Regions from separate parts of the Homo sapiens genome. Here all the other regions are linked to region 3. Evidence: fine-mapped expression QTL. A gene starts in region 3. Each other region holds a variant in brackets. All regions are shown on one strand. Distances are from middle to middle. Region 1 overlaps GCOM1 (GCOM1, MYZAP-POLR2M combined locus). Region 2 overlaps GCOM1 (GCOM1, MYZAP-POLR2M combined locus). Region 3 holds the start of MYZAP (myocardial zonula adherens protein). Region 4 has its middle 22 kb from the start of GCOM1.

Evidence for each region. PIP is the estimated chance that this variant, and not a neighbour inherited with it, causes the effect.
Region 1: its variant is fine-mapped to the expression of MYZAP in whole blood (INTERVAL, PIP above 0.99).
Region 2: its variant is fine-mapped to the expression of MYZAP in skeletal muscle (GTEx, PIP above 0.99). The same link has a PIP of 0.9 or more in adrenal gland.
Region 4: its variant is the best candidate, but not a certain one, in a credible set for the expression of MYZAP in whole blood (INTERVAL, PIP 0.81).

What each region holds. Positions count from the first base shown.
Region 1 is chr15:57,623,877-57,631,527 of GRCh38, reverse strand. It overlaps GCOM1 (GCOM1, MYZAP-POLR2M combined locus), which reads right to left. Exons shown (of 17, transcript NR_104371.3): 5 at 5,636-5,749; 6 at 1,674-1,826. MYZAP (myocardial zonula adherens protein) reads right to left here. Exons shown (of 13, transcript NM_001018100.5): 5 at 5,636-5,749; 6 at 1,674-1,826. Among named protein-coding and RNA genes, the nearest start is that of MYZAP, 36 kb to the right of the region's middle. The variant G/A (reference allele first, on the strand shown) is at 2,497.
Region 2 is chr15:57,632,473-57,640,123 of GRCh38, reverse strand. It overlaps GCOM1 (GCOM1, MYZAP-POLR2M combined locus), which reads right to left. Exons shown (of 17, transcript NR_104371.3): 7 at 7,565-7,651; 8 at 6,383-6,511; 9 at 2,350-2,429; 10 at 579-684. It overlaps MYZAP (myocardial zonula adherens protein), which reads right to left. Exons shown (of 13, transcript NM_001018100.5): 7 at 7,565-7,651; 8 at 6,383-6,511; 9 at 2,350-2,429; 10 at 579-684. Among named protein-coding and RNA genes, the nearest start is that of MYZAP, 44 kb to the right of the region's middle. The variant C/G (reference allele first, on the strand shown) is at 5,711.
Region 3 is chr15:57,587,831-57,595,481 of GRCh38, reverse strand. MYZAP (myocardial zonula adherens protein) reads right to left here and starts at 3,578. Exons shown (of 13, transcript NM_001018100.5): 1 at 3,373-3,578. The coding sequence starts at 3,447. GCOM1 (GCOM1, MYZAP-POLR2M combined locus) reads right to left here and starts at 3,578. Exons shown (of 17, transcript NR_104371.3): 1 at 3,373-3,578. RefSeq lists a silencer at 3,580-3,689.
Region 4 is chr15:57,566,353-57,574,003 of GRCh38, reverse strand. No RefSeq gene overlaps it. Among named protein-coding and RNA genes, the nearest start is that of GCOM1, 22 kb to the left of the region's middle. The variant C/T (reference allele first, on the strand shown) is at 4,081.

The DNA of each region.
Region 1 (7,651 bases), 36 kb before region 3:
CCATTCACTCTGCATCCAGGTCATGTAACATACCCTGAGTTCCTGAAGCTTTTTTTTTTTTTCCCAATTTGGGGAGTAAAATAGGAGGAGTAGGAGAAACCTTTTTAACTCCACTGTCAGGATGAAAACAAGCATCAGTCTCTAAAACAGGCAACTGTGGGCTGGAGTTAAAGGCCTGGACTCCAGGGAAGCAGCCAGATTGCCAAGCAGCCTAATGATGTCCCCAGATGCCTGGTGACAGGCCACCTCTGGAACCAACAGGACTGAACAGGACACACACATAGAGTAGACACTCAATAAATATTTGTGGACTGAATGATTGAATAAATCCCCTAAGCTGAAAAAAATTACTTAAATCAGTAATTTCAGGCTTTTTTAGCAACATAAACTTTTTTCACCCCCCAAGTAACTCTTACTGAGAAAGTAACTCTTACACGGAAAAGAAGAGCTGCCCTATTAGAAGTGAACATACAGAGGAGATGATCTGTCCCATGGCTGTGGCAGGCCAAGTGAACTGGCAGCAGATCCCCAGGGCGGCAATACAGAGACCGGGCGGTGGACCGGCAGCCCCTCTTCCCCACCCAGCCTACCCCTGTGAAGGGGCCCACACTTCCCAGTTTGTCTCCCTAACTAAATTACCAATAGTACCACCTTTCACTCCCTCACATATTCTGCTTTGAGCAATAAACTATGTGGATACGCTACTCATAAGATAGCCTAAGTCTGTGCTGAGCAAAATTTTCAAACCACAGACTTACATAAAAAGGAATTCATCCAAGATATAATTTATTAAGTGCCCTCCAGGAGCCATTCATGGATCTGCTCCTGTCACCGGGTAGGAAGTCTATCCACAGTTTAAATTTGGGAGGGGCACTAATGCCTCTAGGGCATTAGAAGTTCAGCTAAGGAATGCTCCCAGCCTAGGGGGCCAAATGGGACATTCCCCAGTGTCCCTAGTCACCCACCAATTTTCTTCTTGAGAATATTGTACTTGGGGTACAGCCCAAGTACCAGCTATTTGTGTGCCCCTCAGCTCTTTATTGTCAAGCCAAACAGAAAGGCCTTGGGACCTCAAAGAAAATCTAAACAGTGAAGGAAGAGATCTCCAAGGCTTCTGACGTCCCAGATCTGTGGGCATCCCAAGCGTCTTCTCAGTTACATAACAACAGCACCATGGTGAGTGTCTAAAGAGCCCTTGAAGGGACTGGAGGCCAAGAAAGGCATGCCCAATGGGGGCATTTATGGAGAAGCCCCAAACTGGGCCAAGCACGGTGGCTCACGCCTGTCATCCCAGCACTTTGGGAGGCCAAGGCAGGCGGATCACCTGAGGTCAGGAGTTCGAGACCAGCCTGGCCAACATGGTGAAACCCCTTCTCTACTAAAAATACAAAAATTACTGGGCAAGGTGGCACGTGCCTGTAATTCCAGCTACTCAGGAGGCTGAGGCACGAGAATTGCTTGAACCCAGGAGGCGGAGGTTGCAGTGAGCCATGATTGTACCACTGCACTCCAGCCTGGGTGACAGAGTGAGACTCTGTCTCAAAAAAAAAAAAAAATCCAATGAAGAAGAGAATGGAGAAAAGGAAATGGAAAGGTTGAAGATGGGAAGAGAAAAGGGAGAAGTAAAGAGGAGAAAAGTTCATAGAAAATAAATCTAGGCTTTTATACTCCACCTTCATTTTTAGCAGCTGGTTTTCAACTTGCGCTACCTCCAACTGCCTCTGCTTTTCCCTCAGCTTGTCCATGGATGCTTCATACGTCTGCTGCAGATTTCTGATTTGATCCTTAATGTTGCTGTTTTCCAAAGTCACATCCACGAGGGTTTTCTGTGAGGATGAAAATAAAAACAAAACCAGATCCGGTGGCGTGAAAACACATGGGCTGCACCACATGCTGGGGCATCCCCTTATCATTAAGCACTGGGGTAGCTGTCCTAGGCTACAGCAACTGCCAGTCTGGGACCCTGTGCTGTGAGGGACTGTGGGTCTCCCATGGTGGCCAAGAGGTCTGCCCCTGTAGCTTGGAGGGACTGAAAACCTCTCCCATACCATCCCATAGCTGCTGCCAACACCACTTGCCACTGCTTAGGATGGATGGAAATGGATTAAAATGGAGTCCTTCCAAGGAAAAGTATTATAATACATCATTTCACATGGGAAAAAAAACAGCTTTTGAAAATAGTAAGTATAGTATAATCCCATTTTGAAAAATATGTATAAGCATTGGTTCAAATATATGTTTATGCACTGGGGGGAAAAAGACCAGGAGGAAATCTGAATGATAGTTTTCACTATGTGATAGGGCTATGGGTATCTATTTTCTTATTTATTTTTTCTGTATTTCCCAAATTGCCACAATGAAATCAGAAAACAAAATACGAGCTTTATAGAATAGAGATATTCCTCTTTTTATTCTTTTTCTTTTTTTTTTTTTTTTTTTGTTTTTGAGACAGAGCCTTACTCTGTCGCCCAGACTGGAGTGCAGTGGCACGATCTC[G/A]GCTCACTGCAACCTCTGCCTCCCAGGTTCAAGCGATTCTCCTGCCTCAGCCTCCCGAGTAGCTGGGACTACAGGCGCCTGCCACCACGCCTGGCTAATTTTTGTATTTTTAGTGGAGATGGGGTTTCACCGTATTGGCCAGGCTGGTCTCGAACTCCTGACCTCGTGATCCACCTGACTCGGCCTCCCAAAGTGCTGGGATTACAGGCGTGAGCCACCACGCCCGGCCTCCCTTTTTTCTTAAAAGAGCTATCCCTTCTGCGCTTCTAGACTGCCTGCCAGGATAGTGACAATGTGACTGAGAATACTCACATACCTGCAAACATTTCACCTTCCTCCCTTAGGCAGAGAAGGGTAGTAATAAAGAAGTACTAAGGAACAGAATTTGGTAATGCAGACAAGTGATTTTTGCTCCAAGCCGCACAAGTAATTTTTGCTCCAGGCCGCACTGAAGCAAGGATGTTTAAATCAATAGTGTTGGCCATGCGTGATGGCTCATGACTGTAATCCCAGCACTTTGGGAGGCTGAGGTGGGAGGAGCACCTGAGCCTGGAGTTCAAGACTAGCCTGGGCAACTACAAAAAAAATTTAAAAACCAGCTAGACATGGTTGTGTGTACCTGTAGCCCCAGCTACCCAGGAGGCTGAGGCATGAGGATCACTTGAGCCTAGGAGGTCAAGGCTGCAGTGAACTATATCACACTGCTGCACTCCAGCCTGCGCAACAGAGCAAGACCCCATCTCTAAAAAAATAATAAAAAAGAAAAAGAAAAAAATGGTGGTGCTATTTACTGCTTTGGTTTCTACTTGGTTAACTCTCCTTAGAGATAAATGGCCTCCACAGAATCTGTGCCGTTGGAAAGTCATCTTCTACTGTGTCCCCAGTCATCTACAATTTCACATTAGAAGATGTGAAAACCCTGGTGTTGGGCACTGTTTCTAACACCTCTGTGCTCTTGTCTAGATGATCAGTCTCTGAAGCTTCCTCAATTCCTCAGCCTCTACTTTGGACAATATAAGCCTTTCACTCCTAAACCTACTTGAATCAAGAAAAAGAATTTCTGAAGGAGGTGATTAGATACTAAAGAAAATACTGAAGCTATTTGGAAGCATGGAGTCACAGAACATTTGAGCTTCAAGGGGCTTTAGAAACCACCTAGACCAGCCACCCACTCCCCCAGCCCCACTGGCTTCACAGATTCTACTCGTGTATCCACACAAAAACCTACACTCTGGTCCAAGAGACCAGGATTTTTCTAATCCTGGCTCTGTCACTAGGTAGGCATCTTGCTCATGTCATTTCTCTCTGTCGGCCTCAGTTTGTCTATTCATAAAACTGAGATCCTCTCAGTTCTTTCTAGCTCTGACATTCTATGGAATCAAACCAAGGGTCTGGTCTCCCTGTCAATAATAATGAAAGTGGACAGAGTGGGCCAGTGGAAGAGGCTGGGGTCTTGCATAAGGAAGAAGCCAGCTCTCTTCAGACTCGGTCCACCAGGTACTCGAGTGGTCCTCAGCATCAGTGCCTAACACCGTGCATCAGCCCTCTTCCTCTACCAGGTTGAGTTTCCTGCTGTGAGATGGCTTCTCCTTCTCCTTCTCCTCCTCCTCCTCCTCCCCCTTCCCCTCCCCTCCCCCTCCCCCTCCCCCTCCCTCTCCCTCTCTCTTTGTCTCTCTCTTTCTGTTTCTCTCAGCGGTTTTAGCTATAAGGCTCCTTTGGCTGTCCAGGACTAAGAGCCTGCATGATAACTAGGAATCAGTCAAGGTGCCTGGGTCAGAGCTGGCCCAGCTCAAACAGCTGACCTCTGCAGTAAATGCCAGAGTGTTGGCCAGATGGCAAAGCACAAGAATTGCCAGAAAATACTGGCAAATATATTTTTCTTTCTGGGAAGAAAAACCAGAGATGTAGTACAAATACCGACTAAGTCTGAACTCAGGTGAGATAAAGCCCTTGCTGGTGGGCTGGGAATGAGACAGCGTCCGAAAGGGGAGGAAAGGGAGCCTTGGCAAGCCCCCCCGACCACAGGAGGAAGGGAAAACAAAGGCTGCTGAGCAAACCAGACCCAGTGGGGCTTGGCCTGAGGCCAGGGGAAAGCTGGCATACACTCAAGAGAGCCAGGAAAAGGGTGGGACTCAGAAGCCCCACCAGAAATGGGCATCGCAGATGACCCCAAACACGAGGCCACCCAGACCCACTCCAGGACAGTGGCCGAGCCCTGCTGTTGTCACTGCTGCCATACCAACTGTTATCAGAGAATTAGGGGAAGTGGAGAATCCCAACATGAAAATTTATTTATCTAAAATTACTTATATAGAACCAGAAAGGATTTGAAATAGGTTTTGGAACTTTTGAGAGGAGGATAAAAAGATAAGAGCCAAATAAATTTGGAGGAGAGGTAAAAACTGTTGTTCATACATTTGGAAATGAAGACCAAGGGAAGCTATTTCAAATACATACAATGCTTTGCTTTGAACATTTTCAAATTAATTTGCATGTTAGGGGACTTGTAAGAGTAAGAATGGGAAGCACTTGAAGGGTTAGCTCCTGTAAACCAAATCAACCAAGAAAACAATGCCTCAAAGTGAGATAACAACATGCATTTTCACAAATATAAGATACCGGGTCTTTCTGTTTCCCTGTCTGCTACTACAAGACGTGGAATATCCATGATTCTTTCTGATACAAAATAATTTCTAATTATAAAAAAGTGTTTACAGGCCTTTTTTATATTGCTTGCCATGAAGGAGTACAGATTGTCCTTAGTGAAGTCTGTGTTATTCTGTGATTAGGTGGCACTTCCTGTGGCACTGGGACTGGAGGAAGAGGGCTGACGTGTGGGGTTAGGCACTGATGCTGAGGACCACTCGGGTATCTGGTGAAGCAAGCAACATCTCTCACACTAAACTCGGGGTCTAAATTTCCTTTTCAGAGAGCAAAAACAAAGCCTTAGAGTCTCAGCTTGGAAATGCTTCCTTCAGTTTCCTACACTGTCTTCTGGGCACAGTCTTCACAGTGGTTCTGCTTAAAGAATTCTGAATCATGAGCTAAGGATGTTCTGTGACTTATTTTTCTGCAAAGGCACAGTCCCCACTCTTGATTAAGCTGGGTTGCCCTGTCATAGCAGTAAGCAGATGAGTACCTGCAGGCCAATGGAATCTGATGCCAAGGCTGAGTTCATGGCATTAAAACGATCCAGGGCAGACGACTGGGTTTGGATGTGATTCTCCAGATACTCCTGCTGAGCATGGGAAACCTGGACAGATCGAGGAGACAGTCACACAAAATCAATCCCTACACGTTCACGACAATCTTCAGTTAGGCTGGAACTTTCTTCTGTTAGAAGCCACATCTACTTCAACAATATCTAAAGTAAAGCTTTAAATTAAAAGTCAACATCTGCATGATCCAGAGAGAAGGGCAAGAATCACCTTCCTTTGGATAGTGTTTACTCACAGACCCTCATTTAGCCCTCTCAACAACACTGTGCAGGAGTCAGAATGTTGTCCTTTGTAAGGAAGAAAACAATCAGAGAAGTTATGTGATTTGCTCACTGTCAAACAGCTCAGAAGTGGCGCTCCTAGAACTAGAACCCAGTTGAAATAACTTCTGCAGCCACCTTGTTCTTTGTAGTCACCATGGAGAGAATATGCTTTGGTCTCACTCAATTCTCAAGAGTGTTTTTGTAATCCCAGCACTGTGGGAGGCCGAGGCGGTCGGATCACCTGAGGTCAAGAGTTCGAGACCAGCCTGGCCAACGTGGTGAAACTCCATCTCTACTAAAAATACAAAAATTAGCCAGGCATGGTGACGCACGCTTGTAATCCCAGCTTCGTGGAAGGCTGAGGCAGGCGAATCGCTTGAACCCCGGAGGCTGAGGTTGCAGTGAGCCAAGGTTGCAGTGAGCTGAGATGGCGCCATTGCACTCCAGCCTGGGTGACAACAGCGAAACTCCGTCTCATTTAAAAAAAAAAAAAAAGAGTTGTTTTGTTGCTGCTGTTGTTGCTGCTGTCTTTGTTGGGTGTGTGTGTTTAACATGTCTGAGTCAGAAGCCATTCTTGACCTAGATATTGGTAAGAGGCTAGATACAGTTAGGACTGAGGGTGGAAGGCCCCCCATGTGGCCTCTGGGAGCAGCAGAAAGCAGCCCCGGCACAGCAGAGCAGGAGGTGCACTCTGGGGAGTGGAGACAGAATTGAAGCAGCAAGCCAGGCCCAGGAGCATGTGGCAGCTTTGTGTTCAGCAGTGTGTTTCAATAGCAATAATTTAGCAATCTTAATCTGGCTGCAGTAGGTAGGATGACTTGGAGAAGGAGGAGACCAGTAGGCAGAGAGACAGGGTTTCTGGGACAATTCTAGCATGAGAAAATGAGGGTGTGTAGGAGATGGTGATGGAAAGCGAGGAGCAGAGTCTTGTTTATGCATCTATTGCAAATCCAATTCTTTGGCTTTGATGACAGTCATTGGTGTCTGACAGTCATGGCAGAATGACTTTCCATAAGCAGGTGAGAATTTCACAAATGTCCTCCCACATGCCAGTGGGAATGGGCTGGGTAGATATGTTTATACAGCCCCATTCCTATAATCAAGGAAGGGGCTAGGTAGATAAATTTACATAGCCCCACTCCTATAATCAAGAAATGGGGTAGGGAGATATATTTACGTAGCCCCACTCCTATAATCAAGGTACTAGGTGTTACTTAAGCACTTAATCTCACAGCCCAGCCATAAATTGAACTCTGATGCATGACTGTTGTAACTGCCCTTCTTTCCCACAGATATTAACTCTTATGGAAGGTACGTCACATAGACAGGGACTTTTATCTTTGGGAATATTAATAATAAATTTTTTTAAATGTCTACAAGCATTAGCTTGGCTAAACTAGAAGAAGGTTATTTTTCTTAAATTTTTCAGTAGGTAATACACTCACATGGTGCAAACATTTCAAAAGTATAAAGTTACTTTTATATTTTTATAAAAAATTACCACCCTGCTCAGTTACCACCCTGCCTCCCAATTAGAAACAGTTGTTAGTTACTTTCTGGATTAACCTTTTAGTAACTTTTTGTGCACACACAGAACAATCCTGATATGTTTATCTTCTCTTCCTGTTCTATACAAATGGTAGCAATTTTTTCCTACATATTTTCTTGCATCTT
Region 2 (7,651 bases), 45 kb before region 3:
AAATGTATAGCTTGGTTTCCTGTTACAGAGACAGTTAGGAGAGAAAGGATGGTGGCAAAGGAAAAGGAAGAAGAAGCAGGAGTGGGAGAAGAGAACGAGGAAGGAGGGAGAAAAAAGAGAGAAACAGACAAGGAAAGGGAATGAAAGACACACCCAGAAAACGATAAAGGACAAGAATGGTAGCTGAGAGAGAGAGAGAGAGACAGACAGACGGCTGTGGAGGCAGTGCAGGGACCTGGGCTAAATTCACCCTGCCCATCACCCCCTTGGGTCCCCTGAGCTGTGGGTACCCACTCAGGCTATCACTGTCCTTTCACAGTGGGTGAGCTTATGAACTGCACTTTCCAGCTTTCTTAACTGTAACCCTTTGACCTGAGGAAACCCCTCTTTTAGGGGCATCATCGTCATCAGTCCATGGGGGACATGTGGGGAAATCCCACTCTGGGCCTAGATGGCAGTGGCCTGAGCACCTCGGCTTGTGAGCCACAGGAAATGGAGGGGCAAGGCAGACTTGTTCTGGGGATGCTTCCCCACCACAGGAAGCAATCCCAGGCCTGTGACCTTTTGCAGATGCTTACCTCCTCGACCATCTGCTTGACTTTCTTCTGCTGGCAATGCACCATGTCATCTAGGTGTCTGATCCGCTCACGGAGGCTGGCTGATGCCTCCTCCAACTGCTGATACCTAACACAAATAGGAGAAAAAAGCAAATGAGTCCTAAACCAAAGCAGCAACAGCAGTAGCAACAGTCACAGCTTTAAAGAATATTGCCAAGAGCGCCAAGCATGGCGGCTCATGCCTGTAATCCCAACACTTCAAGAGGCCAAGGCAGGAGGACTGCTTGAGGCCAGGAGTTTGAGACCAGCCTGGGCAATATGCTGAGACCCTCATCTCCACAAAAAAAAAAAATAAATAAATAAAAATAGAAAACATGTATCTTTTGGGGAAGGTTTGGTAAAAAAATAAACGTAAATTTAAAAACATTTAAAAATGCTTCCAAGAACAAGAAATCAAACTCTAAGATCCATTCTTCTTACTTTATGTGATGACCACACAAAGTAGTGTGATTACTAACAAACTACCACAACAGAGGAGCACAGGACTATTTTTCAAGTTCCCATTTGCAAGTTTTATCCCATATAAGGATGATTATTTTCCAGGGGCTGAGAGATAATTTTTTTGCACCATTTACAGATCTGAGAAGCTCTCTGTTTTGGGGTTATTAACATATTGGAACATCCAGTAAATTACTTGGAGGGGAGGACGGGGAAGAAGGGGTCCAGCAACACAATAAAATATCTGAAATCAACGGCAGAATACCAAAAGGTCTGGAATCACAGTTGCTCTACATATCCTTTATTTTTGGCAAATGTGGGACAAGTTGAAAGACCTTCTCTACATCCAAACAGAGCAAGCCACATCACAAAACATTTCATACTTTTGTTTTACAACAGCACAATTTATTCTCCAACATTGCTTGGACTCTTCAGTTCTCTGGGGCCGCTGGGGCTGGGCACTGGAGGAAAGGTCTGGTGGTCTAGTTCCCGTGCCCCATCTCTGCCTCAGCACTATGTTAATGACTAGCAAGCCTCCTGTAACTTTGAAAACTCTGAAATTGCAAATGAGGAAGGAAAAATGGGTATTTTTTCAGCACGTACTATTTGGCAGGCAGCAAGCCCAATAGTTCTCTTAACAACAGTAACCTAGTGAGATGGGCACTGTTATCACCGTCATACCCGTCTCCCCCGTTTAAAGATGAATTTCCATGTGGCACAAGCAAGACTCAGGGAGGTTAAGTCACTTGCCCAAAACACTCAAATCATCTCAACCTTGTTTTCCTTCACTAGAGACCCCTGAATGGCCTCTCTGCATTTTGATTTCTAGAACAGACAGCGTACTATTCCGTGTTTTTCATGTAGGGCTTTATATACTCACTGCCAGAGGATAATGCAAGGTTTTACTAAGCAAAGTTTGGAAACAAAGAAAGATGTTTTAAATTGGTTTCCAAAGCAAGTGGTATTAGTCACAGCTGATGAGTTTTCTCATCAACAAGGTGTATCCTGTGGAGTTCAAGGCCATGGAGAACATTAATAGACCAAACTTTTGCACTTGTGAAAGTATTTGATGTGTTCCACTACACTAACAACCAGCCATGATCTGCAGGATGTGGCTGGAGGCTTCCAAAGAAACTTGTTCCATATTGGAAACTCTCAGCCCAATGTTATGTATGCTTAAGTCTGTAATAAGGTACAACCACACAAATGAAAATGTAAGGGTCAAATGAGGTCATAAAAACACAGCGTGTCCACAACCTAAATCCATTACAAGACGAAAGGCATTACGTCTTACCTTTCCTTGTCAGAATCAGTTAACTCCCCAGACATTTCTGTTTCATGTTCTAGGAGTTGAAGTTGCAGTTGATGACGTTCCTAAAACAAACAGAAACTGATATTTTAATCAATGGATCCCAAGTTTGACAGAGAATGTCTATTTAGCAATTCTAGCACTAGGGAGTCCAAGTCTATATGACACCCCCTGGGTTTTACACACCTGCTCAGCAAAGCCCAAACAAGGCTCAAAACTGCCAAGTCTGTTGTTGTGTATTTATAGATATATTTATGGGTCAGAGACAAAACATCCTAAATAAAACCATTCAAGATTCATTTTCCAAAGTATTCCATCAGCCCAGGATCAGTGAAAATTTATAGCCCCAAATACTGATTATCAATACTTTAAACTGGTGGCTTGTGATACTGCAAAATTCTTTATTATTTTCTGAATCATCAAGAAAAGAGGCTCTGGGATTCTGGCAATATCCTATATTCTAACTTGTGGTGTTTACACAGGTGTATTCACTTGTAAAAATATGTTGTGGTCAGATTCATGGCCCTCCAAAGATGTCCATGTCCTGATTCCTGAATCCTATGTGTTATCTTACATGGAGAAAGGAATTCTGCAGATGTGATTAAGTTAAAGATCTTAAAATGGGGAGATCCTGGGTTATCCAGTTGGGCCCTTCTAAGGAGGAGGAGGCAGCAGGGTTAGAATCAGAGAGAAGGAGCCTGGAAGATGCTCTGCTACTGCCTCTGAAGCTGCAGGAGGGGGCCACAAGTTGAGGAGTACAGGTGGCCTCCAGAAGTTAGAGAAGGCAGGGAAATGCATTCCCTTCTAGAGCTTCCAAAAGGAATCCAGCTCTGCCAACACCTGGATTTTAGCACTTCTGACCTCTAGGAATGGAACATAATACATTTGTGTTGTTTTAAGCCACTAACCTTGTGGAAATTTGCTATGGTAGCAATAGGAAACATACGCGCACTAAGCCGTGCACTTTGTACACTTTGCTATATATATGTATATTTAGAAGTTTGCCCAAAAAAGAGTCTGGAATCATTTCTTTGGACAAAGCTGAAAAATGTTCATAAAAACATGGTGCCTGTCATAACCGAAATTGTGCTAAAAATACATTACAGATGTTAGTGTAACAAATTTCCTTAAAATGCAAGTTTATCAAATAACGCTCACTAATTGGGAGATTATTTTACTTTAGGTCCTTCTCTAAGAACTAATGTTCCTCATCTTTATGTTCGGAAATTCCACCCAGCAAACTCTTACTAGCTACATAGATTCCAAACCTCTTTTCTACCAAATTATTAAAAGCAAATCTTTGAAAATTTAACTGCCACAACTTCTGAAGCTATAAGCAGTGGTATACCAAGAGGTAGGCCAAAGGGGTGGGGAAGCAGTCCACCTTAAGCAGGAAGAATATATTATCTCTGAAATATTTAAAATAACAAAGGTAGATCAACTTTGACTGGGGTTTTGTTACTGTTTTTAAATCTCTACAGCAAATGCACATTCTTATGGCCTGGCCTGAGCAGAACATTCCTCCTGCCCCTATGTGGTTGGAAGTTTTACATTAGCCCCGAAATAACAGTGATAAAAGCTTTCACAAGTGAATGCCTCCCTCCAAAAAGAAAAAAAAAACAAAAAACAAGAAAGAAAAAGGCTGTCATAAAGTAGAGCAAGGTCTAACTTACAGCACACTTTTAAAATTTGTTTTAAATTGAGGTACAATAAATCTTAAGTGTACACTGCACAATTATTTCTTACATTTGTAAACACCTGTGAAACCACTGCCCAGATTATGGCATAGACTATTATCTGTTCCCCAGAAGGGTCCCTGGTAGAGAACACTCCTTAAAAGATTTTTACTGATCAGAAAAAAAGGTGTTTGAAATACAGTGCTCAGCAAGAGAAACAGTAAACTAAGGCATATGGCAGAGAAGCCATTCAAAAGCACATGGTTTGTCCTTGAGCAAAATCCAAAACTGAGAGCAGGATACGTACACTGCCACAGCCCTGCCTAGGACATGCCGTTCACGTAGTGTGAGACAGCGATTTGGCCAGATTCCTGCTCTCACAGATTTATCCCTGAAAAGGAAACAGTGTAAATTGGCCTACCTAATGTTAGTTCAATAAATAGAGCATTTCTCTAGCCTAAATGGAAAGGAAGATTTAGAGAAAGGACAATACATTTCCAATCACTAAAGAAGAAGCCAACACCACTTGGGGAAGGTTTTGTGTTTCCTAAATGCTGGCAGGGAGGGCTGGCCTTACCAGCTTCCTGGCTCTACCCATTCATCCCACATGAGGGCTCCATGTGAAAATCAGTGGGGAAAGACAAGAAACTTTCAGAACCTCAAGACAGCAATGAAGATAAGCATAAAATGGGTCGTGCTAAAGACAACCTGACTCTGAGGGTAGACATTTAGGCAACCTCGTAACAGAGTAAAAATCATAGCCACAAATGATCGAACCCTTACTATATACGAGGAACCATGCTTAGCACTTGGCGTGGATTTTTCTCATTTATTGCTCACAAAAGCCCTAAGAATAAGAAGTACCATTATCAGCATTTTACAGAAGTGGAGACTGAGTTAGGAAAAACCAAGTAAGTGCAAACAACTACAAAGAGACACAAGATTCAAATCCCCAGACTGTCTGATTCTAAAGCCTATGTTCATGACCACTACCTGTGGTTTCTCTGTATGACGGCATCTCCCCCAGACCACCCTGCTATGCTGCCGGCTCACCTTGCTTCTTTACGCTGCAGAAAAACCTGCTGCCCAGAGAGAGAGCATCTGAGTTAACTGGGATCTTCTGCTGTTGTAGGAGGACAATAATGTGGGAGGAAGCTCACTCAAGCTCTAGAAAGCTCCCTTGTTGCCCAATCTTCACCACCACCCCCTCTGGTCAATACTAATGTTAGTCCTGACTAAGCCAATCACCTACTCTTCAATAAAAGATGGGATTCTGTTTTCCCAGGGGGTAGAAGGGAGATTGTAATTGACTCTTTAGTTTGCCCAAGTCTCTCCCAAGTAAAAAGCTAAAGAGCTAAAACGAAGCACCCAGTGAGCTCTGAAGCTCCACAGAACTGAATTTCATGCAGTTCCCATAGTGGCGACACCTCGCCTTATGAGGGGACAGTACAGGGGCTTATGCTGCAAACACCATTAGCTAAGGCGACCTCTTCTCAGCATCACATGAAGCCTGACAGTGACCTTGCTCTTGCTGCCCCACCTCTGCCTCCATCATCAGATTGGAGATTCTTGGCATCCCGAATGAGTCACAGGGTGCTAATAATGTCAGGGTCTTGGCAGGTCACTGCTCTCTGCAAACTCATATGCAGCCAGGGAGCCATTCCCAGAAA[C/G]CAGCCACAGACTTGGCCCTGAACTCCTGGGTCCAGAAGTCAGCCGTCACCTGCTAAAGGTCACCCATCCTTTCTCTTCCTTCTCTTCCTTCTTTTCCTCTTTCCTTTCTCCCACCACTTCCTCCCCTTCCTCCACTTCCTACTTAATTCCTGGCCTCTTCCCTTTCACTAGACAGGCTTCATTATCCCAGCTGAGCTCCCGCCTTCCTCAGGTTCCCCCACCACACTCACCAGCCTGCTTACAACACCTAGAGAAATGGGGCCTCCCTACTCTCTCAAGTCCCCAGCGTGTCAAGGAAAAGCCAACCCTTGAGACACATGCCCCAGAAACAACAGGGCTGCTGTGTTGATGTAACACCTAAATAGGGCTTGATAATTCAATGGATAAACTAAGTTCACACCTGGGGCACCAGCAAAGCAAGGCTGCTAAAATATTAATTTTTCTAAAGAATTTCACAAGTAATATTTTTTAAAAGCATCAAAATAGTTATCATGGGAAAAATGAGAACGTTGTTGGACTTCCTTATACTTTATTTTATAGCTTTGTCTTTTTTTTTTTAATTGCAAATTTTGGAGGTGAGAGGAATCCATATCCAGGGCCTCTCGTATCTCAGATGGACCTACAGGGAAAAGTTTGGGCAAGTGGGCAATAGGCCCAACGCTGTGTCCTACCTTTTCCATGCGCTCAATCAGCCTGTCCAGCTCCCCGATCCTCTGGTCTTTCTCCTCTAGGCTGATCTCTGCTGCTTGCATCTTTTTATTGGCTTCTTCAATCGCTTTCAGAAAACTATTGGTTTCTTCCTGCAAAAGAAATATACCCTCCTAAGTACAGGCATGGAGTACCGAGGCTACTCACCGGGATCCAATCAGCTCAGGCCTTGCTAGATCACGATTTCTCTTTAAAACATGACCTTGGAACCTGAAAGTGTCTCACAGATCATGAACTCAACCTCACGGTTCTGGTTCTCACCTATGAATAAAGATACATCATGTGGCTGGTTAATGGGCCTCACTACATTTTTTTCCCTTTTTTCCCTTAAGTCTTTATATCCAAAAGGTGTAAAAGAGGCCTACAAATGTTTAATAACATTGAGTAGATGCTCAGAATGTCACTGTATTTGCCAGAAGTGTAAGGGAATTAGAACCAGATCTGGAATTGAATGCAGAATTCCCAGATCCTTCTCCCATAATGCAATACATCAGCTCATTACTAACAAGAAAACCCAGTCAATCATCAGAACATGTATTAAGCCTCTACGGACACAGATGAGCCAGACATGGAGTCCCCGCCTTCAGGAACTTATAATCTCCTGGAAAAGCCAAGATGTGAGACGCACAGCCCCACTCTAATGGCAGGTATAAAAGAATTCCAAAGTAAAAGCAGAGAGAGAGTGAGTGAGCTTCCTAAGGACAGATAATGGTTCTGGCTCCATGACTGGAAGAGACTCCAGGCATGGAGAGAGTGGCATTTAAGGCTTTTAGGGAGCTTAGGCAAGATCAAAGATAGGGAAGGAGGAAATTTCAGGTAGAGAGAACCAAATGGAGGGAGGGAGGGCACAGCTGCGGGCAAGCCCAGGGTTTGCTTAGATGCTGGCAAATTGTCAGATGAGCTAGAAAAAGGTGTGTATTTAGAGACAGAGACAAGGGGCTATTCTGAGTAGAGACGGGGATGAATAAAGGCAGAGGGGAAGAGGGGAGGGGAGTGAATGAGCAGATGAATAATTCCTTGATCCCTTACCCATGGCTGAGTCTACTGACCCACCTCTAAGAATAAACACTACTACGTATACATCACCAACAATAATGAACCAACAATTCCCGGTAAGTTTACATCGGCAGCTACAACACACACACCAAAAGAGCCTCCTTCTCAGCACTGTGCTTCCTCTGTTCTTCCTGCAGCTTCTCCTCATACTGGCTGTACAGCTTCTTGGTCATCTC
Region 3 (7,651 bases):
AGCAAGACTAACTGGCATTTATAAAATTCCTTTCAAAAGCATGAAGCAAGGTCAATATTTTTAAAATCGTTTCCCCCCATTCCCCAAGGTCATCTTCTGGCTGTGGTTATTCTCCAGTCAATTTGTCTTCCTGCTGTTGCCATAGATAAAACTATTTTTAGTGCACAACTGGTTTGAAGGAAGTTTTTTTAATTTCACAACTTCTGCTGGTTGGCATCCATAAATGCCTTTCAGAGCTTTGTTTATCAGCTGACAGAAATTACTCTCTCCACCTGTTGGTTTTTTTTTCCTTGAGAGGTGATTTCAGATAAGAAGGAAATACAAATTGCAGGTGGCAGCCATTGAACAAAGGCTAACTGGTGGCAGTCCAGCCAGCCACATAACCCTTGGCAGCTGGCTCGCAGGAGTCCCTGCTCAGTGTCAGCTGTCACCACCACTTCTGGTTGGCTTGAATATCTGGACCCACATAGGCTGGTTTCCCCTGCAGTACCCAATTTGATGAGCTCTTTGGATGAACCAGAAATACAATTTTAATGGATAACATGTTCAAGACCATCACTTGTCCATCATCAGAGAGGAATAACAGAACAATACAGTATTTGCTGAACAACTTTCAATGAAAGGTACACTTCCAATGATTATTTGGTCTACAATTTTACTTTCAGGACATCCCGTTCCTGCTTTTCTAAACAATAGGTATTTTGTCCCAAAGCAGGTCCAATTTGCCATCATGATAAAGTAGTCATGTGTCACTTAACCGTGGAGATGCACTCTGAGAAATGCATCATTTGATGATTTTTGTCGTTGCGTAATCATCATAGAGTGCACTTACACAAACCTAGATGGTATAGCCTACCACACACCTAGGCGATATGAGATAGCCTACCATTCCAACCACCGTCATATATCCTGGCTACTGTTGACCAAAATGTGGTTATGCAGTACATGATTATATATGCCAAGTATTCCATTGAGATGGTTATTTCCTCCTTTCAGTATCCCAATAATGTCAATTCCCCTACAAATTCTACTCATCCTGCAAGATTAAACTCAAACATCACCAGTAGGCGGGGCTGGGTGGCTCATGCCTATAATCCCAGCACTTTGGGAGGCCGAGGCAGTTGTATCACTTGAGGTCAGGAGTTCAAGACCAGGCTGGCCAAGATGACAAAACCCTGTCTCCACTAAAAATACAAAAATTAGCCAAGCATGGTGGTGTGCGCCTGTAGTCCCAGCTACTCGGAAGGCTGAGGCAGGAGGACTGCTTGAACCTGGGAGGTGGAGGCTGCAGTGAGCCGAGATCGTGCCATGGCACTCCAGCCTGGATGACAAAGTGAGACTCCATCTCAAAAAAACATACCTTTAGTGAGAGGCCTTCCCCTGATGCCTCAGGAAGAACCTTTATTTTAGCTTCTACAGAACTTTGTAAACTCTTCACCCCACTATAACCATCACCACTTTGTTTGATGTTAGTTTGGGAAAATGTCTGCCTCTACAGGTAGGGCGGACCCCAATGCCAGCCCTTTACCACACAGAGAAAGGTTTATGAATGTTCAATAAATCAATTAATCAACATCTCACAGCTTCCCACCACACACACAATCCCCAGCACACACACAGATAGTACTTGTAACATCTGCAAATCATGAGCAGAGCTAGAAACCATAAAGATGGGCAGAACCCTAGACCCTTTAGATACCTTCCTTCCAGAAACAAGTACCAGTGTACCCAGGACAGCCCTGAATGGCCTGATCCCGAGCCCTGAGTTCTCCAGTCCAAAATACGTCTGCCATCTTATTCAAAAGGCAAAGTCTTTTCAAGAGTGTCACAATGTGTCCGACAGCAAAGCACCTATAATTAAATAAATATTCCAAAGGAAACGTTTGACCCAAAATCTTCAGAAATGTTATTTGTATACTAGTCACATTTGTATCAACCCACCGTATTAGGTTAGGTACCCCAACTAATCCCCACCTCTGGAAGGGAAGTTACAGAGAATTTCATGCAATTCATGCAGTCTGGTCACACATATGATCCTCTCAGGGCTCAGGGTTAGCTTTTCAGTGACTTCATTCTTTCTCAGTTGCAATTGTGTTCAAATTGAGAAAGATTTCCATAGAAAAATACAAACACCCAACTTAGAGTAAGGCCAGGACTGTGGTTGGAAACCCCCTTGGACCCAATGTAGATCTTACTCTATGATGCTAATGATTGGACAACTGGAGTTCTGTCAACCTTGGGCATGAGCCAACTGATGGATTCTGGGGTGTGTGTGTGTGTGTGTGTGTGTGTGCGCCTGTGTACACAACCTAAGTGTCTGGTGAGTGCACGCACACACACACCCCAGAATCCATCAGTTGGCCCATGCCCAAGAGTAACACACCTTTCTTCTAGAGCTAAGAAAGACAGCTTATAAGGTGACCACCATCACTCGCTTAAGGCATGTAAAAGCAAATAAGCAGGTCCAAGCCTGCACGCAGACAGAACCAGTGGGGGTTTTGCTTTGGACTTAACCACCTGTTTAAATCTTGAGGAAACACGATTACAGAAGTCTCAATCAGAGCAAAGAGGTACCAAATGATAAGTATTGAACATCATGATAAATGGAAGAACTAAAAAGCCACAAGCCAAGCCCCTGGCTGTGGCTCTAAGGTGCTGACCGTGTTAGAAAGATGGAGCATTTCTTTTACAGAGCATCTGGAGAGATGGGAAAAGATGCCACAAAGATCAAAAAGAAACAGCACTTCCAAAGGGAAACCTTCCCTGGAGATGCTGTCCCAAGCTTTCAGTGCTGCCATTGTTGTCACTGTGCTAATATTTAAATCAGACAGAAGAAAGTGGTTTACATAAACCGGAGTCCCACACAGTCGGGCTCCTGGGCGGCCGGCTGCTGTTCTGGTTTGCCCACCTTGGCTAACCCCACTCCAGAATTACCCTATCACTAGTGGATACCCTATCACTAGTGGACACAAGTGACCCCATCTTTCTTTTAATTAATGGAAGAAGGAAAGTTTGAGTTTTAAATACATTCATTACTTTTGAGTCTCAAGGTAGGGACACTGCACAAATGTCTTCCTTCATTTTTAAACTGGTGCCGCCAATAAACTCGGCTTGACAGAAAGGCAGGAAGGAGAGGAAATCTCTGGGAATTCCATAAAGTCCCCTAAGCCCTCTCCTACCAGCTGGTGGGCCCCCTGAAACCTCAAGCGGGAGGGTCACTGCCAGAGCCGGCACAGGACCGGGGAGTTGAGCCCAGGGTGGGGCGTCGGGGCCAGGTGCTGGCTCCCGAGCTTTCCCATCCCTAGTCCCCTCTAGAGGGGGCGGCCGGGATGGGGGAACGGGACGGCGGCGGCTCCCGCCCCCGCTACTCACCCTCCTGCTGGGCGCCCCGGGCGTCCTGGCGGCGCCGCCCGAGAGCAGGGTGACCGTGGACGTGGAGCGCAGCATCCCGCAGCGGCGGTCGGTAGCGGGCTGGACGCCGGCGTTCCTCCCGGGCAGAATAAGCGTGCGGGGCCCGCCCTGCGCGGGGGCGACGCGGGACGGCGCCGGCTACTTGCAGCCTCAGCTGCACCGCGAAGGCCCGGGGGTGGGGCCGGGGGCGGGGCCGGGCCGGGCCGGGGCGGGGCCGAGCGCGCTCACCCGACCCGTCAGGCTGCATTTTCTCCCGAGGGCGCCGACCCGGTTAAAGTTGAGCACCATCCTCTCCCAGGGCGCTGCGCCCTCCCAGGGTCAGTCCCAGGGCAAGAAGGAGCCCTGGACAGCCTGGACGCCCATGCTCTCTCTGTCCCCCGCAGAGTTGAGATCCACCTGCCCATTCAGTCTCACGACCTACCCCCACCCCGGACTGCCCCCTACAGCCTCTGCACGCCCTCGTATCACTGGGACCCTCACCCCATGTCATTCATTCAGTATTTCCTGAATGCCTATTATGCGTCCCCACCAGCAGCCAACCCAGTCGACTGGCTGTTGGCCTCGGAGAGTTTGCAGTGTGGTGGGGATGACAGGTGCCGGGCTGTGGTAGAAGAGGAGATACCATGTACTAAGGGAGCACACAGCCAACCTCAGAGGAGGTGATGACTAAGCTAAGACCTGAAATGCAAGTAGGAGTGGGCCACACTGCCCATATTTATTCAATGATTACTGTGGGCCTGCCTGGCGAGCACTTTGCGTGTGTTACCTCATTTAATCCTCACCATTGCCCTTTGAGGGAGTCACTGTTGTTACCTTGTATCCCCATTTTGCAGATGAAGACGCTGACTCACCTAGGGATTGAGCAACACAGCAGGCGACCCACTGGCCTCTCAGTGGCAAAGGTAGGATATGAATCCCCCAGTCCGACCCTAGTGCCTTGCTTGTCCCCTCTGCTGTCCCCTAACAGAGGGAGGAGGGAGTCCCAGGTCAAAAGAACTAGCATGCACAAAGATGGAAGGAAAGCAAGGGAAGGTATAAAATATGTTTCAAGAATTGGAAGTATCACAGTGCAGTGGGAAAACAGTGGAGAAGCAGCGGAAGGGAGCTGAGGACATCATGAGGAACCTGTGTGCTTAGCTGGAAATTTGGCCTTTATCTTGAGGACAAAGTGTTTTTCAGCAGGGAAAGACACAATCTCTGTCTTCAAAGCCCAGGTCAAGCACTGCCTCCCCACGGAGCTCTCCAGAAACCCCTTCCCCAAACACGCATGCTCAGGAACTTAGCAGCTCCGCGGGACCCTGTCTTCTGTTAGAGTTATCTATGTGTGTGCCTGTACCCTGTCCTTCTGGAGGGCAGAGGCCAGGCCTTGACCCTCTCTGAATGCCCAATGGCACCAACAGGGAAGATGCTGAAAAAAAAATGTTGCTAAACAGAATTACAGATGATCCTGTGGAACTCACTCCTTTTGTAGATGAGGAAACTGAGGCCGGTGTATACAAGTGACTTTCCCAAAGTTGCACAGCCTGTTCTTCACCATCCTCATCGTCATCCTCACAGTAGCTGTGCTTGTGTCCTAAGTGCTTTATATGCATTTTCTCAACCAATTCTCACAATGCCCCACAAGGTGGGCTACAGTTATCGCCCCTGTTTTGCAAATGAGGAAACTGAGGCCAGAGACATTAGGTTAATTGGTGAACAGCTGAGACTACACATCTAGTCTTCTAACCCAAGTCCTTCTGCTTTTCTGCTACACTCCTCTCTGCATCCTCCCATCCACCTATCCCTTCCAAAAAGAAAATTGTTCATGACAGGTTCCTTCCCATTCCACTTCCACGAAGCCCTCTAATCTACCCAAGTCTTTTTCATATTGTTAACATCCTATTCACACGGTGTTATATTTCTTTACAAAAGCAGCAGACAGCTCACTAGCTTGTGAGCTCTGTGTAGAAGCTGGATCTTGTTTACATCTCTGCCTGTCCAATATCTAGAGCAGGTAATTGACGTGTGGTAGTGCAAGTAAATGTGGAAAGAATGAAGAAATGTTATTACAGAGTAAGATTTCAACTCACTCATGGTCATGAAAAACAGAAACTAAGATCCTTGCCAACCCAGCTCCTAGGGTGGGCCAGGGACTCCAAGCAATTTGGCAGCTGAAGCAACAAGAGCCCCAGGGTTGTCCCAGCCAGGCCATTTCCCCAAAGCTGGCTGACAATCGCCAAGGGCTGTGGGTGGTGTGTCCAGGCAGATGCCAGGCCCTGGCTTATGCCACAGCTCCTCCCTAATAGGCCAGCACTAGGAATCTGAGGTCATAAGGAACTGCAAGAGAGAGGAGAGTGGGGAGCCCAGAAAGTGGGAAAGAAGGAAAATGGGAAGACAAGTAGGACTGAAATCAATGGAAAAGTGGATCTAGAGTGGAGAGGAAAAAGTAAAAAATGAAGTCACAGTCACTGGTTTCCATTAATATTTCTGAGAGAAGATGATTTTTAAAAAAAGATGGACTCTTTTCAAAAGAGGAATCAAAAGCTGAGAACTTCTGCCCAGTCAGCAGTCCTCTGGAGTCTACAGAACTGAGAGTGGGGAAGAGGGCCAATGGGAGGGGAACAGGGATAAGGGTCTGGTGTAGAAGTTCTCCACATTCCCTTGCAACATGACTCATCTACTCCAGACCCTCTGAGCATTGGTGATGAAGGGGTTGCTAGTGTTTGGGCTGGAGAGAACGGGAGCTATGACAAAACTGTCTTAGCTGTCATCCTTTTCTATCCACAGAAATAGCCACATAGGCCTAAGAGCAGTCCTGAATTTCTCTGCTAAAGCACAGGTGTGTAGAAAATTCCAGATGTCTGTATAAGCACCCTTCATTTTCTTGTAATCAGTTACTGAATTTTACCTCCTTCTCCCATCCCAGTTCCTAGAATTATCTTTCATATCCTCTAGGTCTCTGCTTCTGAATTGTCTTTGTTGCTTTCTGCTAAACTCTTTCCAAATTCCATTGGCATCTTTAGTTGAGAGGCTTATGATAGGACCCTTTTCTCCAGCAAAGTCCTGAGCAGCAATGACTCATTATTTCTTGCACAAATGATCAAGAGTTAAATCACTGGACAAGAGCACACAGTAGATGAACCCAAGCAATTCTGGCCCTCCTGATATTTCATGCCCTCTTCACTCTTATATCTCTGAAGCTTCTCTTTCTTTCTCTCCCATTCAGCTGCGACAGCATCCCGAAGTCCTGGCATATTCTCCCATTCTGCATGCCAAACAGACCAAACTTTCACAATAGAAAAAGGACACATTTCCAACCAAGGACAAGGGTAATACATTACAAAGCCCCTTTGGATAAAGTAGAACAAGAAACACCCCATATTCACAGGTTGTCCGAGAAACAGGGAATGGGGCCTAGAGATAAGAAAGGCAGGCTGAAAGGAACCCAAAACCCCAGCCAAGTCATCCAGATACACAGCAGTTATAGGCCTGTCTAGACACAAGGGCTGGAACCACTTGCTGATCCACCCTGGGGAATACAAGCTCATTGGAAATCATTCTGTTGTCTCGCCAGTTAACCCAGTGAACCAACAGGCAACTGGCAGAGTAATAATAAGCCAATTCATGGAACAAATATGTACCAAGCACCTACTGTGTACTGAGCACTGGGGACTGAGGTGAGTAAGACAGCCCCTGTCTTCTAGGAGTTCACAATCAAACCAGGAAGAGAGATGTGCACTTAGCAAATAAAATGACAGCTAACACTTTTATATGGCACTTACTGAGTTCACAAAGCTTAAAATGCATCAACACATTTAACTGTCGCAGCAACTCAGTGAGGAAAGTAGTATTATGTCCCTTACTTTGCAGATGAGAAAATGGAGCGGCAGGGAGGTTAAGTAACTTGCCCTTGGTTCCAGCACTAGTAAGTGGTTAAGCTAAGCTTCAACCCCAGGCAAGATGGCTCCAACATCTGCATACTTGACAATTCACCTCCTCTACTGGGATAGGGGCCAGATTTGAGGTGTGTCCAGAGCACTTATGGTAGGCAGGAGGGAAGCTGCTTGGGCAGAGAACAGTGAAGGCTTCCCTGGGAAGGTGGCATAGGAGTTGTTGGACACGAAGAATGAGGAGGAAAAGGTAAGCGCATTCCAGACAGAGGAGCTGGAAGAAATAGTGGGTCGGGGGATGTGGGAAATGCATGTTAGCCAGTTCTGCTTGAACTTCAGGGCAGGAGGGAATGGCCAGAGACAAGTAGGGT
Region 4 (7,651 bases), 21 kb after region 3:
ATGATTGCAGCCAATTGACCCTAACAGCTGGGCCTCACTCAGAGGCCCAGGAGTGGGCTCCAGTTGAGCAGAAGCCTGCGGCCTTATTTCTGCTTCCTCTTCTAGATGGCAGTAGGGCCACCCCAGTTTGTCCCCACATCCCATCAGCATTTCTGAGGATTTTGTTCAGTCGTATTACAAGTTTACTGGGGTCCTGCCATGGAGGACCTAAGGCCTCTGTGGGCCTCTGTCCTGTCTACTCCACATTCAGAGCCCTGGCTCTCTTCCTGTGAGTCCCAAGCTGCCCATCAAGTCTTCTCTGATCCCCAGTTGGAACACATGCTCCTTCTGCATTCCCACCCCTGTTACTGCATCCCAGGCTTCACCGTTAAGCTCCTACTTCCTTCTGTCCTCGCTTTCATTGGAAAGCTGATTGGATAGCCAGCTTCCTCACTTAGTTGTGGGTAAGGACAATATTAATCACCTTTTATTTTCTCAGGTTTCTCCCCACACATCTCCTTCCCTGTGCCTACGAAGTAGTAGGTGCTCAAATGTGTTGACTGAAGGAAGGACAAGATGAAAGGAGAAAAGGAGTGAAGGAGGAAGCAAAGAAAGGACGCTTCAGCCACTTAGTTAAAGTATAAGATAACATCTAGTGTAATTCAATTCTAGACCAGACTGCCTGCAGGAGAACCTCACCAAGAGGAGCCAGCCAGCAAGGGAATTGCAGCCTGCATGGTGCAGACAAAACAGCCCCGGAATGGCATCTTTTTCAGGGAAATCAAAAGGTCTTAAGCAGCGAGCTCCCATCATTCAGATCCTGAATGCTCTAAGGGGATCATACAACTGCAATTCACTTCTGCATATGCATCTATTACGGTGTTCACATCTGAGTGCAGCACAGAAACAGTCTTTTTTTGTTGTGTTTTTGTTTGTTTGTTTTGAGATGGGGTCTCACTCTGTCGCCCAGGCAGGAGTGCAGTGGCTCAATCACGGCTCACTGCAGCCTCAACCACCTCAGGCTCAGATGATCCTTCTGCCTCAGACTCCCAAGTAGCTGGGACTACAGGCACACATCACCACACCTGACTAATTTTTGTATGCTTTGAAGAGATGGGGTTTCACCATGTTGCCCAGGCTGGTCTCAAACTCCTGAGCTCAAGCGATCTGCCTCCCTTGGCCTCCCAAAGTGCTGGGGTTACAGGTGTGAGCCGCCACACCTGGCCCAGAAACAGTCTTTAAGAGGGATGTGGATATTCAAGAATTGAAATTTAGAGACTCAGAAAATGGACCTAATGACAAACAAATGTTTTTTGAGAGCCTAACTGTTTCCAGATGCTCCACTGGACACTGGGAATCCAATGGTCAGCAAAATAAGCACGGACCATACACATGTGGAGTTTGTAGATTATTGAGTCAACAGCACACATCAGAAATTGACTCAAAAAAATTAAAATCTAAAGGCAAATAAATGTTAAGCAATTATTTTGAGAGGCAAAATTGAGATAATAGAATAAGGTTTGGATTCAGACCAGAATTGGGTTCAAATGCTGATTTTGCAACATTTAATGAAAAGAAGACAAAATTATACACACACATGGTTTTAAAAGTCCAGTGGTTCTACAAGTTTATAATGAAAATTAGCACCCTCTTGCCCCTTGATCCCCATTGCGTAGTCACAGCCACTTTTAACTCTTTAAGCTATTTCTTCTGGTATTTATCATCATATATTTCAATTACACACTTATATGGCCATATCTGGATTTTGTTTAAATTTTAGATCCCATCTAGTGACTCTCCATGTGGAAACTGAGGTTTTGGTCTCTTAAATCTTCCTCCCACATGCCCCCTCATTCTTCAAATACAGCTATATCGTAATTTTGTTTAAATCAATAATCACGGCTTATGCTCTATGACCGCGTGATCATCAGTCACAGGCCATGAAGTGCATTTTATAGTAATATTTTCTTTCGTATACAACTTTTTGTTTTTCCTGAAGCTAACAACTATCACCTTTTCTCCACTTATTTAGCTTTTTATGTATTAATACTTATCACTAAGTCATCACTAGCTTTCCTTCAAAAGTGACAGTGTGTCACATGACCAAACTCATCCGGTCATATGTCAACAGCATTTTTTTTCTGGAGACAGCCTCCACCTCCACTTCCCGGAAGAGCTCTCTAAACTCCTGCTCCAGCCTGGACTGGTGGGGCTCCAGGCAGCCCCATGGTGCCATCCTGGGGCTTCGCTTGCCATCATCCAGGGTGTCCTCTGGGCATTATCTCCTGGGATGCGTTACCTGCTTCCTTTATCTCATGCTGTCCTTTTTTTTGGATAATTCCCTCATTTTGGAGGAATATACCCAAGGGTAAATAGGAATTAAGGATTTCAAGACATTGTATTTCTGAAACTGTCTTGATTGATAGTTTGGACATGTACAGGATTCTAGGGATAGAGAAGTAATTCTCTCTTAGAATTTGGAAGGCATTGCTGCACGGGTTTTGGCATCTAATGTTGCTTTTCTTGAGAAGTCTGATGCCATCCTGATTCCTGATCTTGCCTTGCCTCCCCCTACAGATTTTAGGGCCTTATCTTTGTCTCTGATGGTCTGAAGCTTCATAATTACAGTAGTGCCCCCTTATCCACAGTTTCCACAGTTTCTGTTACCTGTGGTCAACCACGGCTCAAAAATATTAAGTGAAAAATTCCAGAAATAAACAACTCATAATTTTTAAATTGCATGCCATTCTCAGTAGCGTGATGAAATCTCAAGCTGTCCTACTTCATCCAGCCCAGGATATGAATCATGCCTTTGTCCAGCTCTATATGCTACCTGCTCGTTAGTCACCTAGTAGCCATCTCCATTATCAATTTAACTATTGCAACATCTCAGTGCTAGTGTTCAGGGAACCCTTATTTTACTTAGCAATGGTCCCAAAGCACAAGAGTAGTGATCCTGGCATATTGTTATAATTGTTCCATTTTATTATTGTTGTTGATCTCTTACTGTGTCTGATTTATAAATTAAACTTTATCACAGGTTTGTATGTATAGGAAAGAAAATGTTGTATATATAGGGTTTGGTACTCTCTTGGTTCATTTTGTGTTGCCATAATGTAATACCTCAGGTTGGTTAATTTATGAATAAAATAAGCCTGTTTGGCTCACGGTTCTGTAGGCTGTACAAGCATGGCACCAGCATCTGCTTCTGCTGAGGGCCTCAGGCTGCTTCCACTCATGACAGAAGGTGAAGGGGAGCCAGCATGTGCAGAGATCACACAGCGAAAGAGGAATCAAGAGAGAGGAGGGGAGGTGCCAGGCTGTTTTTCACAACCAGTTCAATTAGGAACTAATAGTGTAAGAACTCACTCACCCCCAAGAAAGGGCATTAATCTGTACATGGGTAATCTGTCCCCATGACCCAAACATCTCCCATAGGCTCCACCTCCAGCATTGGGGATCAAATTTCAACATGAGGTTTGGCATGGTCAAACCTCCAAACTACAGCAGGTACTATCCGAGGTTTCAGGCCACCACTGGGGGTCTTGGGACACATTTCCCAGGGATAAGTGGGGGCTGGGCACATGCATTGTTGTGGGTGTTTTTCATGCATTGTGCTTGGCACTCTGTGGACCTTTTACATATCTATAGATTCACGTCTTTCAGAAATGGAGAAATTTCTTGAATTGCGTCCTTCTCCCTTCCATATTCTCTGTTCCTAGTCTATGGAACTCCTTGGACTGATCCTCTAATTTTATTATGTTTTCTCTCCTGTTTTTCACCTCATTTATGTTATTACTCAACTTTCTGGATAATTACTTCAATTAACCTCATTTTCTAACCATTAAATTTAGTTTTTCTTTCTGCTCTCAACTTTGAAGTTCCAAGGATCATTTTGGTTCTCTGCTATGCTAACCTCTTGTGCTTGTCTATGTAATCTCTGAAGATGAATCAATCACAGGACTTTGTTGTTGTTGCTATGGTACAGGTTTCTTGCTGCTGCCCAGATTGCTTGTTTCATCCCTAGTTCCTTGTTTTGTTTTGTTTGTTTTTGTTTTTGTTTTTGTCTATGTCTTTGATATTAAGGACTTCTCTCAAATG[C/T]CTGATGACCCTTGACTGTTCGCTCATATTTCAGAGTGAGGCACCCAATAGTTGATGGGGTGACATTCATCAACTATAGAATTCACCAGAGGGTAAACCACTGAGCAGTTTCACCAAGGTACTCCCAACCCTCAACATCTTTTAAATTCTATGCCTGAGCTGCCAGACATCTTCCCTAGAAAGGAATCCTCGAGGCTCCTGCTTGGAAGAGATCAACCTGGCTGCCAGTGCTCTTGGAGCTGGGCCTGGGGAGGAGGCCAGTGGTGTCACCACTCAGCACATATACTCACTCAATCCCCCATGTGGCATGGTACCCTGTCCTCAGCTATGCTGCTGCCCAAAGCTGGCAGCTCCAGAGAAGAAATATCTAGTCTTCTAGCAGCAGGAGGGAGAGGATCTAGGGACATTGAAATATTTAATATACAAACTTTCAACAAATCCTATTTTTAGCTCCACCTGTGCCCATTTTCAGAGGACTCTGCCTACTTCAAACTTCACCCCCAACCACATAGGCTGTGCCATTTTCTGGTCTGTTAAATTGACACTTTGCCCTCTCCTTCCGGCTTCCCAGATGCCATTGCTCTTGCTTACTCTCCTATTCTCTTTTATCATTCTTGTATTATCAAGTTAAAAAATCCCTTCAGTGTCATTTTCATGGGGTTTCAGGAAGGAACAGTACTACCCAAGCATGTCAACCTGCCCTGTTTAACCAAAAGTCTAACTATGCCATCTCGCTGAGCTAGTTCATGTCTCAAGGCCTTTTCTTCCTCATCTGGAAAAGGCTGAAAAAAAAATACATACGTTATAGGGCTGTTTTGAGAATAAAATAAAGTAATGCTTGTAAAGCACTATGTATGGTTTCTGGCACATAATATGTGCTCAATACATAATGGCTATTATTCTCAGTTACCAGATCCACTCTAGCATGCAGAGTGGAATTTTTTTTTTCTGCATTGCATGCAAAATGACAGACAATGCAGCAAAAAAAATTCAGATTATACTGAAGTAGAACTTCCAAAATTCATAAAAAATAGACAGTGGAAGTAATTCTTAGTCAAAGATGTCATCTTTCTATAGCCATAAAATTTTAAGACTCTAATGAACAGTCACAGTTTGGGTTAGTTTAGACATAGTCCTCCCTGGGACTAGATGAGATGACCTCTGAAATCACAAAGAAGCAATTCATCTCTGATGAATAAATATCACAGGGAAATGGAGCAATGGTAATAAGCCCATCATTCCCAGGTATTTGAATTGCTTTATTTTCCAGGCTGGTTGCTCATTGGAATATTAGAATTTCCTATGAGTGATATAACACAGCACAGGAAACAGGCAGGTGGACTGTACCAGAAAGTGGTGTCGTATAGTATTGCAAGGATATATTTGCACTGGAGCTGGGAAATTAATTTGAATTTAAACAAGAAATAACCAGCCCTTAGACCACAAGCCTTCATGAACCAGGATTCTGAGCTGCTCAGGCTTAGAAAACACACAGCTCTCCTGGGAGTTGAGTTTTGAAGGGGGTTCACGCACAGAATCTAGTTATCTTTTTTTTTTTTTCAGGGTGAGGTGACACACAATAAAATGTTAACACAGAGAATGCTTGGGAATTTATAAACTTTGGTGAGGAAGAGAGGTAGAAACATGGTTTCTCTAAGGAGCAGTCATGCTTGACATTTTCAGAGGAAACTGGCATACACATTGATGCTAATGTTGGGGGAAACAGTTGTGTGTGATTTATAGATGATGAAAAACATTTGACAAGAATCTTTTGCAAAGGCTATCCTTTTTAAGGAGTCATGGCTGTAAGGAATGTTCTCTCAGGCATAGAGAACGGGTTTACAGATAAGAAAGAACACTCATAAACAGCAACTGCCCTGTGGAAGAACTGTAACCCCAGGGCCTTCTAACTGCTGGGCCTACCATCAATTTTTCGCTTCTTTTAAAAACTTAGCGATTGCATGTTCACTATTTAGGAACACAAACTAGCAAAAAAAAAAAAAAAAAAGGAAAATTTCCTGAAAACCTGCCACCAATCTTAGCTTTTTCACAAACGATCTTTGTATAAGAAGAAAGATGTAGAAAAATCTTCTGGTTTGGACCGGGGGTGGTGGCTCACGCCTGTAATCGCAGCACTTCGGGAGGCTGAGGTGGGCGGATCACGAGGTCAGGAAATCAAGAACATCCTGGCTAACGCGGTGAAACCCTGTCTCTACTAAAAATACAAAAAAAAAACTAGCTGGGCGTGGTGGCAGACGCCTGTAGTCTCAGCTACTCGTGGGGCTGAGGCAGGAGAATGGCGTGAACCCGGGAGGCGGAGCTTGCAGTGAGCTGAGATCGCGCCACTGCACTCCAGCCTGGGCGACAGTGCGAGACTCCGTCTCAAAAAGAAAAGTCTTCTGGCTTGGACACCGTACTAAGTTCCTACAACGATGCCAAGCTTATGGCCTGCACACAGAGGGGGAGTCTTCTAAGACTAGCTTTGAGGGAGCCTCAAAAGCCATTTTGCTCTATCATAGCACCTGACATCTTCATCATTACTGATACATTTATACTAGGGAAATATTAGGACTCAGTGAGTCTCTTTAGGAAAAGCCAGCATCTTATTGGCCATTACACACCTTAGCAGCGGTTACATTGCTATACTAAGGCCAACACCTTGGAAAGCAGAGCATAAGGCTCTGGAGAAAAGGGAAGTAACACGGTGCTTTGCAAATTGCAAAGACCTGTACAAAGGGAATGTTGTTATTATTGGTCCAAAGCAATGGGATTCTGGGTAAAACTGTGATAGAGGCTCTGCACCAAAGACATCAGACTCATAGGTCAGCAATGCCAATAAAACTCGGATATCAGTACGAAAACTGTGGGTCACCAAACAGAGACAATTGTCTAAACAACATGTGCAGTCACGAGACATGCAGGCCTGGTATCCCTGCCAAGAGGGTGAGAGTTGTATGGAAAACTTCCTCTGCACTCTGGAATTGTGCCCTGTGGCTGTGACTGCCTGGCTTTTACAGACTTCATGGTAACTGCAATTAAAAATGCAACAAACCCTCATACATGACAGGTGGGATTGTAAAGTTATATAGTCACTTTGAAAGACAATTTGACAGTTCCTCAAAAGGTTAAACATCAAGGTACGTTATCACCCAGCAATTCCATGCCTGCAATGTACCTAAGAGTATTGAAAACATATGTTCAAACAAAAACTTGTACACAAATGATCACAGCGGCATTCTTCATAATAGCTAAGATGTGGAAACAACACAAATATCCATCAATTGATGGATGAAGAAACAAAATTTATATTTTGTTTGTGTTCTATTTATACAATGGAATACTATTCAGCCTTAAAAAATAATGAAGAGCTGATCCATGCTACAATATAGATGAACCTTGAAAACATTATGCTAAGTGAAAGAAGTCAGACATAAAATGCCACATATGATTCCATTTATATGAAATGTCCATAATAGGCAAATTCATAGAGATAGAAAGTAGATTAGTGGTGGCCAGGAGCTGGGGGATTTGGGTGGGGAGAATGAGAAGCTACAGTGGGTATGGGATTTCT